Regions from separate parts of the Homo sapiens genome. Here region 1 is linked to region 2. The links come from fine-mapping of genetic effects on gene expression. A gene starts in region 2. The other region holds a variant in brackets. All regions are shown on one strand. Distances are from middle to middle.

Region 1 (8,000 bases), 150 kb after region 2:
GTTGATTCCCTTGAATCCTCTAAGACAGAGTCAGAGCTGCAGCTATGCTCAGTGGGGTGGAACTTCTTTGTTTCACTCAGCAGGTTCCAAAGTCTTGGGCAAGAAGTGAGTAGTAGAGTCGTAGAATTACGAGACCTAGTCATCCTGTGCATTAAAAAAGACATTCATTGATCACCTGCTATAAATTAATAAATGTATATTATACCCCTGCAAGACTATCATCTCCATTTTATAGATAAGAAAACTGACTCAGAGATTAACTGAGAATAGCAAAGGCTACTACCAATGACCAAATGCTTTCTAGGTGCCATCCACAGTTAAGAACTGTTCCATACAGGCTTTCTAATCTTCCCAACAACTTTATGAAACATCAAGCATTTTCTTTTCTATTTTTCAGATGAGAAAACTGAGACTTGGGGAGATTGACTGACTTAATCAAGGTGACTTAGTGGCAGAGCTGATACATAAATCTAATCGAGGTGAAATTTTGGCGCAAGTTTTGGAGCAGCTGTTCAAATCTGCTAAAACAGCTCACTCAATTCAAATATGCATGGTTTTAAGTTTCTACTCTTCTGTGGTTTAGTATAAGCTTCTAGAAGGAATATTTACTTAGGAGAATTCAGGAAAAGTATCATTGACACCTTGTGGGACTTAACGAGATGGAAGGAAGAGTGATGGATGATGAAGAAACAACAAGGCTCTGTGGCCAATGCCCCTTTACCCTTTCAGGATAAAGGAGCTCTAGGGTCGTTGCTGAGGTTTTCTTCTCTTCTTGGGATTTCTGTCCTTTTTACCCTGTACCTTCAAGATCCTCCAGCAGGTCACCCCTTTCTAACACACAGGGGGACCAAACGGGATCCTGAGTCCCACTGCTTTCTGCTGCTTGTTGCGTGTCTCAGAGGCAAAGAGAAGCAACCTTGGAAATGCGACAAGCTGTGGATGTGGAGTCAGAGATTCTGGGTTTGATTTCTATCTGTTGCAATTCTTCCTTGTATGATCTTGGGCAAGTCCTTTACTACACGTAACCACCAGCTTCCTCATCCATAGCGTGTAGATAGCTCCTGCTCTAACTTTTAAATTACTATTTAAAATAATGTGGAAGAAAGCATAAGAACTTGTTTTTTGGCTGAAAAAGGGCATGCTCCAGGGCTAAGCACATGGACTCTGGCCTCAAATCAGGCTCTGGCTTTTGCTAGCTGTGCAGCCTTGGACAAGTTACTTATTCTGTCTAAATCTTTGTTTCTGCATCTGTAAAATGAGGGTGATAGTAGTTGTTGGTCGTAAGCTTGTTGTAAGGAATAAGCATTCTTTTACAGTGCTCACTTTGGTGTGTGGCACAGTGTAAATGTTCAATACAATTTTTATTGATTCAAAGAGAGTTGGCAGATCTAGGCTTTGTGATGGGGGATGAATATATGAACTTCCAGAAGCTTTTTGTGCTTTATATTGGAATCTAGAAGGGCCACCCACTCTGACCCTAGAAGAGTACCACAGCAATCTCAGGTAGTTCTACTATGCTCTTAGTAATTTATCTGTTATGTAGTAAATTAATAGTATTACTTTGGCATTTCAGTCAATAGGATTAAGATGATCTGATGGTAACAGAGCAGTAATTGCTGCTGCACATATGGAAACTGTCCAGTGGCAAAAACTATTTTTTCACAAGCTGGCTGGTTGCCCTCAGACCAGATTCTTTCAACTCTTAAAAAAATAACATTTTCCTCTGATGATTAAAGCAAAAAATGCACATTGGGAAAATACAATGAGGTTCAAGGAAAAAAATGAAAACCCACCTAGAAAACCCATTATCTAGATATCTACTGTTAACATATTGCTAAATTTCTTCCAGGTTTTTTTCCTCTACAGATCATAATGAGTGTTGTTTCCTCTTTATTTTTGACTGAAGATTCTAAATGAGCATTTTCTATTGCTATTAAATCTTTAGAAACACAATTTTAAATGACTGCATATGCCAGTGTGTGGCTGGCATATGCAGTCATTTAAAATTAGTATTTATTTTGCTCTCCCACAATTGATAGGCATTTATATTATTTTCAATTTTTAGCTATTATAAATTATGCTGGAAAAACCCCCTTGGTCACAAACCTCTGTTCATGTCCTAGAAGCAAAATTGCTGAGTCAAAGCTAGAAATATTTCTGAGGCAGAAAGGCCATAGCAGAGTAAAGGAGCCCCTTCCAACCCCCCAGGACCAGCAACTTGGCTGTCATTGAAAATTAATTCTTCATAAGGCAGTGTGCTAGGGGCAAGGGCTGAAGTCAACGGTGAGTAAGTAAAAGTTGAAAAGGAGAGAGGTGACTGCTTCCACCTTTTCCCTTTTCCTCCACTGACTCACATTGCCCATGAAATTGTAGACATTGGAACGTGCTGGAGGGGAGAAAGCGAGCTCTTAGTGACAGATTGTTCAGAAGCCCAACATTGCTTCGTGCTTTGCATTTCCTTTTCTGTTAAATTGCCCTGCATATGTCTTCTGCCTGTGTCATATTCATTTTTTTAAATCCCTGAAAGTACTTACATTTTGCAAGCATTCCCTAAATGCTCGAAATGGGGGGTGGGATAACATGGTGGACTCAAATCTGATTCTGCCGTTTATTAGCGGGTTCTGATTTATTAGCTGTGTGATCTTAGGCAAGTCACTTAACACTTTCAATTTGTTTCCTTATCAGTAAAATAAGGGTAATAATAGGGATACTTTCTATAATTGTTTGGCTAAGTAAGAAAATACATATCAAGTGAGAACTGCAGTGCCAGGCACAGAGAAACTACTGAGTATGTTAGCAATTATTACAAATAAAAATAAGGTTCAAATAATCTGCACTAAAATCTTATGCCAGCCTAAGTTTAACCTAATAATTCTTAAGAACTTAGAAAAATCCGAAGACTGAAAGAGTCAGGAATGCAGGAAATACCGGATGTGGGCTGTACTTCACATCTTGGCTAATTTATTATATTTAGTTGTAGGTCCTGCATTTTAAGAGGGACATTAACAGGCTGGAGCAGGTCCAAAAGGGAACAATTGGGCTGGTAAACAAACTTGAAATTGACCTGTAAGGAATAATTAAAGACTCTGTGGGTGTTTGGCTCAGAGAAGTCTTAGGCAGAAGGGATCGGTCCATTGGGCTGTTGGGGGAAGAGGGACCCAACTTAATAAAATAATTTTTTTGAGTATTTTTATTTTCCAGACATCGAGCTTTGCAAATATTATTTATTTTTTCTTCTCCAAAACACTACATGAGGTATGTATTTGTGTATCTATTGTACAGATGAAGTAACAGGCACAGAGGCAGAAGTGACTTGGTTGAGAGTTAACGTGGTTAATAGGTGGAATGGTAGGAATGGAGCCAGGTCTTTCTAATTTTATAGTTTGAGTACCTTCTACAGCCCACTGACTTGTTCCAAGTGACTAGGGAAGACCTGTCGGACTTTTAAAGAGCAAGATGGCTGCCTGATACATGTGAGGAAAGAATATTTAGACCATTAGAGCCATCCAACAATGGAAGAAGCTGCCTGAGTAGATGATGAGTTTCTTGTCACTGGAAGTATTCAAGGAGAGGCTGAACTTCTCTGCTCAGTAGCATGCTGTAAGGATGACAGCTGAGGAGTGGGCTGGAACTGTGACTTTATTACTTACTTGGGTGTTCTGGAAAGTTGCTTAACTTCTCTGAGCCTGTTTCTTCATCTATAAACTAAGAATATGGCCTAATTTTAGAAGACTTACAAAAAAAAATACAGATAAATTGTTTAGCCAAGAAGCTGGTATACAGAAGTTGCTCTTTATATATTAAGCGAAAAATTATCTATAATCTTTCTATTTGTATCTGTGGCTCTCATTTATTTGGCGACACTGTCTACTCACTTCTTCACTGGGAAAAATTTTAGACTTGGAGAGGTCACCTCCTAGGTGAGTATTTTACTTCACTTCTGCAGTGGCAGGTACATGCTAATTTCTGTCCCCTTAGGCAAATGACAGGTTGGACTTTAAAACAGGGGCAGTGGAATAAACAAAAGGAAGAATATTCAAACTGAAATGTTAAGCAATAGAATAGACATTATTGGGAGAAAGATTAGAACCACACAGCTAATAAATCATGTCACCCTATGGATCAAATATCAGATGGGTTTGAGGAGCCCACTATATGCCCAGCACTGTGCCATATGCATTAGAGTTCAATCAATCGGAGGCACTGTCTTTGTCTACAAAAGTCTCAAGGCCTGGGATGGCCCAGACAGTTGTGAAAAGATTAGCTGATAGGACTGAGTATTATTCTGTGCTAAATCTTTTGGTTTGGATTGCAGCCCCTGGGCAATTAGGGAAGGGATGCTCAGAGGCAAGAGATGGAGAAGATGACCTTGGAAGGTCTCTTTCTTGCCTGGGATTTTCTCCTTTTGATGATGCCCAGGATTCTTTCTAGCAGGCACAATGCTGTAATGTTGCAGTTGTGGCTCCCTTGGGCACATTCTCTAGTCATTTCCCCAGGACTTTCCCCATAGCCTGGGAATATGCTAATAATTGTTGTCCATAATCTGGCCTGGAGGAGGAAGATGTGGAT[G/A]AGGAAAAGGAGGAAGAGGTGAGGAAGAGGAGGAAGGGCCGCCCTTCTGAGGGCTCTCTCAGCAGCCTTCCTTCCTGGGCTTTGAGAACAAGGCAGCATCCTGTCTCCTCCCAGGTATCCATTCAGGCCCCTGTTCTGTAGACATCAGTCTAGGCTCCTACCAACATCAGCCATGGGTCCCACCAGCAGGAAACATGGAGTTAGTTGCATGAAGAGAAAGCTTTTATTGTTGGAATTCTTGATGTGAGGATCCTTCCTTTTCTTTCAACAAGATAAGCAGATTCCAACTGCTTTGGAAAATATCTTCCTTTCTCTATCCTCTTGTTTCTTCCTCCTGTCATCATTCCTCCTTAACCTTTGCTTCTTCCCTCCTACATTCTTTTTCCCTTCTGGTTTCTCTACCTTATTCCTTTTCCTTCATTTGTTTCTGAATCCTAGGATGATGAAGTTGAGGGAGGTCTTAGAAGTCCTCTAGTACAGTGTACTCATTCATTTTACAGATGAGAAGAATGCATTTCCAAGACAGAAAGAGACTCACAGAATGAGTCCTTGGTGGAACCCAGAGTAGACCTGAGTTGAGTGCTCTTCCCTCTTTATTACTCTGCTTATCTCCACATTTCTCTCCCCTTTCTTGTTTTTTTTTTAAATTGTTCATTTTATTTCTTGCTCAATACTCTTTCTTCTCGTTTGTTGCTTCTTAATCCCATAATGTTAAATGAAAACAAAATCAGGATTTTGGGTAGAAGAACTGAAAGGGAAGTGTGTTGTCAAGTTCTTCCCATTGTGGCTGTGATTTGGGGTGAGCCCCTCAATTTTCCTCCTCAGAGTCTCTATCTACTTTCTCCATCCTACCCCGCCATGTCTTTGGAGGGGTTTGTCCACTGTCTTTCTCCATATGAAGACTTTGAACTTGAATTGCCAAGGTGCCCTAAAGGGGTCCTAGGTTGGTAAGATCACTGCCTTAGTCCCTTCATTTACAAACTGGAGATGATCATAGTATTTTCCTCACAGGGTAGCTATAAAGATGAAATAGTTAATACATATCAAGTTTTTTGAAAAGTTTCTGGCATATAGTAGGTTCTAAATATATGTTATTCATATTCGCTGGTATTATTAATTATAAATATTATTTAGAGGGATTTCTGTCCATAAGGAGAAGGGTCGAGAGTCACAGATGTCATTCTAACATAAGGAGAGAAAAGAAAACTATGAATATAGCTCAAATAGAGACTCAGCAAATTACACAAAGGGTGACCTGATCTCAGCTGTGCTCTGCTTCCTGAATGTGTGCACTTTTTACCCAAAGGCACCATCTTTTCTCCAACCATTTGAATTCAAATTGCAGCCCATGGTCATGACTTACCCTGAGAAGAAGCTGTTTGGAAGTTAAGAGTAAAGTTAGGCCTTGCTCAGAACTGACACAGTTTAAGAAGTCCTTCTGATACTTTCCATTTTCTCCCAGGTAGTGTTTAAGATGTGATGACAGAGTGCTGTATTCTCCAAACCAAAATCACTTGCATGTCATATAATAAGTTTTGCCCAATTTATGTACTGTTATTTAATTTATTTTTAATTTGATTTTTAGTCTTAAATGTTATCAGTATCATAATGGAATTGGTAAGTTCTGGTCCCTAGTAAAATAAAATAAGAGAAAATTATCCTGTACCATTATAGTGTATCTTGTAGACTATTGGTGTAACTCTGATTTGATTTTAGGGAAAGTTGTCATGGTAATAAGAGACTTGGAATTCTCAGTTCTTGTCTGGGCTGGACATTAATTTACTGTTGACTTTGGACAAGTCCCTTTCCCTCTGGCCACAGTTCCTCCCTGGGAACTGAAACAACTGGGACATGTAATTCTTTCCATCTCTAACTTTTTTTTTTTGTCATGAGTAGGAGTATTTTATGAAATTGCACAGTGAATTGGGTAGGGCTCCAGTCACCCTGATGAGAGTATGTACCATCCATCACGTTGTTCTGAGCACCCAATTTTATAATATAACTCTAGCCTTCCATTTTCCAGTGACATTTTGCTTCCAGCACAATGACTTCTGTGGGAAAAGCAACTTCCATTTGTTCAGAAAATTCTCCTAAATACACGAAATAGTTTCAGCTTCTAGGCTGATTTTTACTTAGAGAAAACAATCAAGACGGCACTGGTTTGGGTGACTCCAAATGTCTTTCTTTCCTACCTGGTACAGGTTGCCTTTTATTAAGGTGGGCTCTAAGTTTGGTTGAATGCCCATACTCTCTGGCATCCTCTTTTATTAAAAAATATATTTTCCAGCTTTTCAAAAGTAATATATATTGTTGTAAAACATTCAAGTATTACAGGAATATTTAATGCAGGAAATAAAAGTTCCCCATGGTCTCATTCTCAAGAGACAATAACAACTATAAACAGTTTTCAGTCCATTTTTGTAGAATTTTTCCCCATAAGAGAACATTAATACATATAAAAAAATAAAAATGGGATCCTACTGTACAGACTGTTTTGCTATTTGCCTTCCCTTCTCTCTCCACTCCTCGTAATCATTCATCCTGGCCATTTTTGACTTTTCTGCATGGAATGAGGTTGCCTGCCCATGATACTAACTGGCTGTGTGACTTTGGATGAATCATTTTTCCCCTCAGGGTTTCAGTTTCCTCAACTATAACAAGAAACAGTCCTCTCCAACCTGCCCATCTCCTATAATATAAGGCTTAAGGGAGATAATGGAGATGTATGAAAGTGTAGGCACCTTGAGGGTGGAGTTGATAGTAGACTGTTATGTGTTACCCTCTCTTGCTTTATTGGGTTTATAGCACTTACTAGGTCCTGCAATTCTATAGTTTCTCTATTTGTTTAGTTGTTTGTACCCCCCACTAGAAGTTAAGGTGTGTTAGAGCAGGGACCATGACTCTGTTCCTCAATGTATCTATCCCCAGAACTTAGAACAACTCCTGGTTATCGTAGGAATTAATAAATATTTTTTGGATAATGAACAAATTATTCTCTCTCAGCCAGGCTTCTAATTGATAGAAAGCCCATTGGGAGAGAATAGGGCAGAGCAGGACTGGGCTGAGCCAACATAACAGGGTGGATGCCTGGCCTACCCAGTGGCCTTGAGCTCAACATCATTCAGCTTGACTGTTCTGCAAGCCTTTTTCCTTTGTTTGCCTCACTCTCCTGATACTCTTTGCCTACCTGGTAAATTAGTCATTCTTTATGGCCCAGTTTAATTATCCTGAGTCATGTGAAATGTCTTCAATTTATACCATCTCCCACCTCCAGACAGAGTTAATCAGGCTCTTTTGTATGCTCCCACAACACTTTGCACCTATCCTACTTTAATTATAGTAATAGTGGTTTTCCTGCTTTTTACACTTGTTGCTTGCCATATGCAATGCCAACTATATGCCCTCTCCCTTTTAATACTTATGATAATCTG
Region 2 (8,529 bases):
TGCAAAATCTGTCTTAAAGAAAATGGTCAGTCTTTCCTTTCTTCTAAACATCTCTGATTTTTTCATCTTGTTTCCTGACTATTCACAGACAGCAACAATAACAGATTCTGGAAAGAAGGATTTGTAGTAAGTATTACAAAATCTTGTCTTTAAAATGTGGTCCTCAGCCCAACAATATGAGCATCACCTGAGAGCCTGTCAGAAATGCAGAATCTCAGGTCCCTTCCCAGAAGTCCGGAATCAGAATCCTCATTTTAACAAGACACCCAAGTCATTCCTCCCCACATTACAGTCTGAGATGATGCTCTCCTCTATTAAAAAGTTTTTTTAGGCTGGGCAATGTGGCTCATGCCTATAATCTCAACACTTTGGGAGGCTGAGGCAGGTAGATCACCTGAGGTCACAAGTTTGAGACCAGTCTGGCCAACATGGCAAAACCTGTTTCTCTACTAAAAATAGAAAAAAAATTAGCCAGGCATGGTGGCAGGTGCCTGTAATCCCAGCTACTTAGGAGGCTGAGGCAGGAAAATCACTTAAACCCAGGAGTTTGAGACTAGCCTGGGCAATACAGTGAGATCATGGCTCCATTTAATTTAAAAGAAAAAAATTGTTTTGGAAAAAAAAATGATGATGCTCTGGAACATGGATTGGCACACTACAAACTACCTGTTTTACAAAGAGTTTTGTTAAAACATAGCCCAAATCGGGCCAGGTGTGGTGGCTCATGCCTGTAATCCCAGCATTTTTGGGAGGCTGAGGCGGGAGGATCACGAGGTCAAGAGATCGAGACCATTCTGGCCAACATGGTGAAACCCCATCTCTACTAAAAATACAAAAATTAGCTGGTAGTGGTGGCATGCGCCTGTAGTCCCAGCTACTCAAGAGGCTGAGGCAGGAGAATCGCTTGACCCAGGAGGCGGAGGTTGCAGTGAGCCAAGACCATGCCATTGCACTCCAGCCTGGCAAGAGAGCGAGACACCGTCCAAAAAAAAAAAAAAAAAAAAAGAAACACAAAAACAAAAAACTACAGCCAAACTCATTTGTTTACTTTTGCACTAGAATGGCAGAGTTGAGTAGTTGTACCAGAGACCCTATGGTTTGTGAAGACTAAAATGTTTACTATCGGTGCCGTGTAAAAAAAAAAGTTTGCTGAGTCTTGCTCTAGGATAACCAGCAGAAAATCAATTCATCTATGGTTTGTACTTATATACTGAGCCAAAGCTTTGAAGGGTTTGCAAGATCAACATAAGAGCTAAATCTACTGATTGTCTATTACATGTCAAATTATCTTTGTACAGTATCTAAGTTAGTCCTCACTGAGCCTGGAAAGAGAGCTATTTATCTTATTTCACTCAGGAGGAAAGTGAAGTTCCCAAGAGTTCACTAGGTAGCTTGCAGTCATGTGGCAAATAACTACTGAGTATGGAATATGAACCTAGGCTTTCTTCGCTCCAGGGAAATCTTGCTGGTTCTGGAAAAGCAAAGTACACCGCCAGCCCTCATAACCCTGACTCTCAGCAGAAGCTCTGAAACTAGAAACACATTTTTAGGGAGCACAGTTTTTTGCTGCCCAAGGACCTAAAGTCAACAGATACCTGAAACTTTCTGTCGCTGACTACAGGGAGTAGGTCCCATCCCCCACAGTATAAAGGTCAGAAGCCAGAAACCAGCTTCTGGGTATAAACATTACAGTTCAGTGCTCTCCTCCTCCACCTCTGAGGGGCAAAAATAAATTTGAGGGTGATGGAAAATCTATTTCATGGACAGAGTAATCACTTCTTTATAGGAGAATCTCAAGATTGGCTCTACCACCAGATGCATAACTGGGTAGTTCTGGTTCCTCATGGCCTCTGGGGTCTTTTATAAAGACTTATAAAATGGGTAGATTTTAAAAGCCAGTAGGTTTAAAGTAGGTTTTTAAAGTCAGTAAGTGGGATGATTCTTTTTTTTTTTTTTTTTTTTTGAGACTGAGTCTCACAGTGTCACCCAGGCTGCAGTGCAGTGGCACGATCTCAGCTCACTGCAACCTCCGCCTCCTGGGTTCAAGCGATTCTCCTGCCTCAGACTCCCGAGTAGCTGGGACTACAGGCGTCCGCCACCATGCCCGGCTAATTTTTTTGTATATTTAGTAGAGACGGGGTTTCACCATGTTGGCCAGGCTGGTCTCAAAGTCCTGACTTTGTGATCTGCCTGCCTTAGCCTCCCAAAGTGCTGGGATTACAGGCATTACCCGCCGCACCTGGCCTATTATTATCCCTTCTTGACAGATGAGGAAACTGAGATTTAGGGGTTAGTTCACACACTCACGGTGATTCGGCTGAGTAGGGCCTGAATTGAACATAGTCAGCCTCTAAAACCTCAATGCTTAACCACTGAGATCTTGTTAAAATGGGATTGAAAGCTGCCTGCCTATAGTTTTCTCTTCTCTTCTCTTCTTTCTTTCTTTCTTTTCTTTCTCTCTCCTTCCTTCCTTTTTTTTTTTTCTTTTGAGACAGGGTTTCACTTTCACTCTGTCACCCAAGCTGGAATGCAGTGGCACGATCACGGCTCACTGCAGCCTCAACCTCCCAGGCTCCAGCAATCCTCCCACTTCAGCCTCCCAAGTAGCTGGGACTATAGGCACGGGCCACCACGTCTGGCTAATTTTTTGTATTTTTTGTAGAGCCAGGGTTTCATCATGTTGCCAAAGTTGGTCTCAAGCTCCTGCATTAAAGTGATCTGCCCGCCTGGGCCTCCCAAAGTGCTGGGATTACAGGCGTGAGCCACCATGCCCGGCCTCACCTGCCTATAGCTCTAGCCCACCTGTCCTACGTCTACACAGGAGCTACCATTTCTTGGGGACTAGATATATCAGTGGCTGTGTGACATATTTTACTGGCATTTTTCCAGTTAATACTAACAACAGTCCTGTGAGGTCAAAGTTTTTGTCCCTATCTTACAGATGAGGAAATCAAGGCAGTGAGATAAAGCAACTTGCCTGAGGTCACCCAGTTGGCAAGCTGGGGCACAGATTTTCAGAGGTTTCTGGGATTCCAAACCCTGTGCTCTCGGGCATTTGTCTGAGAAAACTCTCAGGTAACACACTCTTCCCCTTCCAGTATGTGTATATAGATATATTTTTTTCTTCCCTTTCCAGTTTTGAGGAAATCCCTTGACTAACACCCTCTTTCCTTCAGCTGTTATCTTGTGGTACATGGTGCCAAGTGCCCTCCTCATTCCCATCATCTGCTCCAGAGGGTTTTTTGTCAAAATCCCCAGAAGATACAGAATACAGTGATGATCAAGCTAGCCTTTTCCTCATTGCCACCCCCCACAAAAAATCCTGGTGGCCTTCACTCCCCAAGCCCCAGGGCAATTAATACTGTCTTCTACCATTGCCACAGGCTGACTTGCCCAACTGGTAGGGCTGATTCTATCAGATTCCTTATCCATACTTTGTTGTTGGAGGATTTGTCTCAAGGCACCTGGCAAGACCCACAGGAAATGACACCTGAGATGTCAGTGGCTCTGCCCAGGAGGCCTCAGGCTCACCTGCCAGCTCCCTAAAGACAGGATGCAAAGACACATGGCAACTGTGGGATACCTCTGGGTATCCACCTGGCCCAGAGCCATGAATTAGGCACCCTGAAGAAAATGCTAAACACCACATGACCCTAACCAAGATGCAACTGAGATCAGAGCATCTTCCCAAGCCGGTGTGACTGCTTTTGCCTGGCACCTCCCATGTGGTCAGGCCTGGAGAGATGGGGAGCCTAAGGATAAGGAGCTGAATCCTGGCTCTGCCAACTTCAACACGACCTGGAATAAGTTACTGGGCTTTTTATATTTTTATCTGCCAAAGGCCTCAATTCTTTATATAAAAAACGAGGCCACGAGCAACAATATATGTGATAAGACTGAGTGATCTGCAAAGGCAGGCTAAGACTGACTTCCCAGACACAGCCACTGAGCAACTGGTGACTGTGCGGGGGGGTTCCTGAACCTCTCTGGGGCTCATGGGTTCAGGCTGAGAAAGTGTCTCCATTCAGTGTCGCCCAGAGTTGATCTGAAAAGTAGGCCAGAGTGGGCAGGGAAATTAAGAAAAGCATGAACCTCTGAAAACCTGCCCGGTCCGTGAGGAAATAACCGGGTCCACTCCCTTGTCCAGAGCCTCCCCACCGCCCTCCTTCAGGCCAGCTCCGCGGGCAGGGCAGCCAGGAGGAAGGCTCAGGGACTAGGCGTCTCAGTTCCCGCTGGCCACCAACTCCCCCATCCCCTGCCCCCTCTCTGGTTCTGTTTCTCTGTGTACGCAGGGAAGGTGTGGGCTTGTCGCCCCTGGAGGCCTTCCAGCTCCGACGTTTTGAAGCCTGGCTCCCAGATTAAACTCCCTTCGGATCCCATTTTCTGAAGGGTCGCAAAAGCTGGGGGCTGGGTGGGGTAAGCTAGGGGACAACAGCGGCTCCGGCCGCCGCCTGAGCCCTTCAAGATCAGCATCCGGTCAAGCGGCTGTGCAGCCGAGAAGCAACCCGGGACTGCAAGTCTGCGTGGCGGGGACGGCGCAACCACTCACCGGCATGACTGAGGCAGCGGCGGTGTGGCGGCGGTGTGGCGGCGGTGTCAGCAGCGCCTCTCTGGATTCGGAGGGCGGGTTCGGCTGCGCTTCCGAGAGTGCGCACTAGAGGCCTGGTCCCGGAGGCCCCTCCCACTCCGGGCCCGGCCGCGAGGGAGGCTCCGCCCCCTCCAGTCCTGATCCCTGCCGGCCGCGCCGCCTCCTTTCTGCGGGCCGGGCCCGTGGTCACCCGGCCTGGACGGAGAGAGGAGGTGAGAGGGGCGCTGCGTTGGCCTCCATCGACTGTCGGCCTTTTTCAGAACGCCTACTTCGGGTCAAGCTTGTGTTAGGGAATGCCAGAGAAGGGCACCGCCTTGAACAGGACATCATCCATCCATCCCTAAAAGGACAGTTTCACTCATTTATTCACCGAGTCAATTTTTATTAAGCGCCAGCCAACGAGGACGCAGCGGTGGAAGAGCAGCAGCAGGAGGCTGCGAAGGACGCAGGCAGTGATAGTGCAGGGTTAGCAGAGCTGTTGTGACAGAGGAGGAAGGGCCCTGACTGCAGTGGGGTGGGGGCGGTTGTGGAAGAGAGGCGGCCTGGGGAGAAGGCAATAATCTGGACCTCGGTTAGCCTTTATCGCCCTGTTACAGGCTTTGTCTCTAAATACAGTCGCATTGGGGGTTAGGGTATCAACATAGGAATTTGCGGGGACACAATTCATGTCCATGTCAGAGTTCAGTCCCTAGCAGAGCCATACTGACTAGAGTTTTAATCTCAGCCCTATCATTTATTAGCCATGTGACCCTGGGCAGATGAACTTACCTCTCTAAGCCTCAATATCCTCACGTATAAGATGGGGACAGTTAAGGTCACTATACAATTTTTTATCTGAACCTTTTGCTAGAGAAAGGAGATGCTATTAATAATTTTGCCAGGACAACAGGCAAACACCATGACTGTTTCAGGCAAACAACGACACATGGTTCCCTCCAAGAAACCTACTTTGCAGTATTGTTGGAATACATGTAATGTGTGCAAACTTCTTAATACATTGCTTGGCACATGGTAGGCACCAAAAATATATATAAGTATTCTCTAATTGCTAGGCCCTCTGTTGGCCTCCCTGGCACTGGGTCTTCCGCTGCTCACAAAATACCCCTTAACCATTCATCCCCTACCCAACCTGCCAGGAATTCCCTAAAGATGGAAGGGAAGGGGGCGAGGAGGAGAGGGAAAGAGGGTACTGGCACATTAGGTCCTGTACGGGCAAGGCTTAGCATCTTGGTAGTCCTGGGTACAACTGTGCCCTGGGGCTAGGGATAGCTAGATTGCCATGAGGGAAGGCGGAGAGTGGACATGAGGGAAGGAAATCCTTCCCAAAGCAACAGTACACAGGGCGAACCACCCACGGCATGTTTTAGAGAATTAGGGGTATGGGTTGGGGGGATGGCTAAGCCTAGAGACAGCAATTTAAAGAGAAGACAGCTTTATAAAGATCTGTTAAAGATCACAAATAAAGACCTATTAAAGAGGAGAAGAAAATATGCCAGACTGTAGTTCCTGCATAAATATATACATACATTCCGTGTATTTACATTAAAATAAGCATGAAATGAACCACAGCCAATGTTACTAGAAGTTATCTTGGATAAGTGTAGGATTTGCAGGTGGAATCCCAATGTACCTACTGTTTAATTTTCAAATAACACAAAGTAGCGTACAGTGAAAAGTAGGTCTTCCTCCTACCCTGACCTCTCCTTCTTAAACAAAAGGCATAGTATACACAGTTTTGCATCCTGCTTTTCTCACTTTATAAAATATCTTAGAGATTATTCCTGGGCCAGATGCAGTGGCTCATACCTGTAATCGCATTGCTTTGAGAGGCCTAAGTGGGAGGATCACTTGAGCCCAGGAGTTTGAGACCAGACTAAGAAACATGGTGAAACCCTGGCTCTACAAAAAATACAAAAATTAGCCGGGTGTGGTGGCATATGCCTGTGGTCCCAGCTACTCAGGAGACTGAGGTGGGAGCATCACTTGAGCTCAGGAGGTCAAGGCTGCATTGAGCCATAAGTACACCACTGCACTCCAGCCTGGGTGACAGAATATGACCCTGTATTTAAAAAAAAAAAAAAAAAAAGATTATTCCTTAATAGTACATATCAACCCTTTTCTTTCTTAGCTTTTTTTTTTTTTTTCCCCGAGATGGAGTCTTGCTCTGTCGCCCAGGCTGGAGTGCAGTGACGTGATCTTGGCTCACTGCAACGTCCGCCTCCTGGGTTCAAGCAACTCTCCTGCCTCAGCCTCCCAAGTAGCTGGGATTATAGGCGCCCACCACCATGCCCGGCTAATTTTTGTATTTTTAGTATTTTTAGTAGAGACAGAGTTTCACCATGTTGGCCAGGCTGGTCTCGAATTCCTGACCTCGTGATCTGCCCACTTTGGCCTCCCAAAGTGCTGGGATTACAGGCAATGAGCCATCACTAAGCCAGTGAGCCTGGGAAATGGGCATATAGAATCCCTGCTTTCTGGCTGAAAGTGTTGTTGCAAGGATAGGAATGTGCACACTGTAGGCATGTATAGATGGTGGGTTCTTCCTGGTGTAATCTACTTCTAGACCCAGCCTCCTGGGATGACCCTTTCTTTGACAGATGCTGAGGAGTTTAATTCTTTGCAAAGAAAGGTTTTGTAGCTGCTGCCTGCTCCCCGATATCCCCACCGCAGGAAACCAAGTGTCTGTTTTTTGTATCATAACACAGGTATACACCACTTGCCTCACTGCTTTATCCACCAACGGACCCTTTATCTGGGACCAAAGATTCTGAGCTGAAAGGGCCCTCAGAGCAGCCAAGGCATGCATGAGAAGAGAAGGGCTATGAAGTGGAAGCTGAGGGAGCGTGGACTGCAGGCTTGGGAGAGGGAGCATGGTGTCCTGCAGAGCCACATGCTGGCAGAACTGGGTCTACAGACACATTTTATTCAGTCCCTAAAGTATTCAAAATATTTTTTGATTAGTTGACAACAGTTAAGAACTCTGAGTATGCTTGTACAACATTGTGAATATATTTAATGCCACTGAATTATACACTTAAAAATGGTTAGAAAGAGGAATTTTATGTTCTGTATGTTTTACCACAATTAAAAATAGGGCATGGTGGCTCATGCTTGTAATCCCAACACTTTAGGAGTCCCAGGCAGGAGAATTGCTTCAAGTCCAGCCTGGCAATATAGCGAGATTTTGTCTCTACAAAAAATTTAAAAATTAGTTGGACATGGTGTTGTGCACCTGTAGTCCCAGCTACTTGGGAGGCGGAGGTGGGAAGATCACTTGAGCCCAGGAGGTCAAGGCTGCACTGAGCCGTGATCGTGCCACCACACTCCAGCCTGTGTGACAGAGCAAGACCCTGTCTCAAAATAAAAATAAATAAATAAATTTATTTATTTCTAGACTGACATGTAAAATTAGTTGCTTTCTTATTACAAGACTAGGAAAAGCATTTTTAAAAATAAAAATTCTAAATAGTTTTTAATTTTTATTTTTTGAGACAGGGTCTTGCTGTGTCACCTAGGCTGGAGTGCAGTAGCGTGAACATGGCACACTGCAGCTGTGACCTCCTGGGCTCAAGGGATCCCCTGACCTCAGCCTCCTGAGTAGCTGGGACCACAGGTGCATGTCCCCACACCCAGCTATTTTTTTGTATGTTTTTGTAGAGATGGGGTCTTGGCATGTTGATCAGGTTGCTCTCATAAGCAATCCTCCTGCCTCGGCCTCTCAAAGTGCTGGGATTACAGGCGTGAACCACCGCACCTGGCCTAAATAAGTTTTTAAAAAGGGTGATGGGCGGGTGCAGTGGCTCACGCCTGTAATCCCAGCACTTTGGGAGGCAGAGGCAGGCAGATTACTTGAGGTCAGGAGTTCAAGACCAACCTGGCCAACATGGCGAAACCCCGTCTCTACTAAAAGTACAAAAATTAGCTGGGCATTGTGGTGGGTG

Evidence for each region. PIP is the estimated chance that this variant, and not a neighbour inherited with it, causes the effect.
Region 1: its variant is fine-mapped to the expression of ATOX1 in whole blood (INTERVAL, PIP above 0.99).

Annotation. Positions count from the first base shown.
Region 1 is chr5:151,903,454-151,911,453 of GRCh38, forward strand. All of the region lies in intron 1 of GLRA1 (glycine receptor alpha 1), which reads right to left. Among named protein-coding and RNA genes, the nearest start is that of GLRA1, 17 kb to the right of the region's middle. RefSeq lists a silencer at 2,215-2,509. The variant G/A (reference allele first, on the strand shown) is at 4,570.
Region 2 is chr5:151,753,997-151,762,525 of GRCh38, forward strand. It overlaps ATOX1 (antioxidant 1 copper chaperone), which reads right to left and starts at 4,635. Exons shown (of 4, transcript NM_004045.4): 1 at 4,550-4,635. The coding sequence starts at 4,555. It overlaps ATOX1-AS1 (ATOX1 antisense RNA 1), which reads left to right. Exons shown (of 4, transcript XR_007059008.1): 2 at 1-126; 3 at 2,942-3,075; 4 at 4,293-4,364. RefSeq lists an enhancer at 3,674-3,803 and a silencer at 4,574-4,823.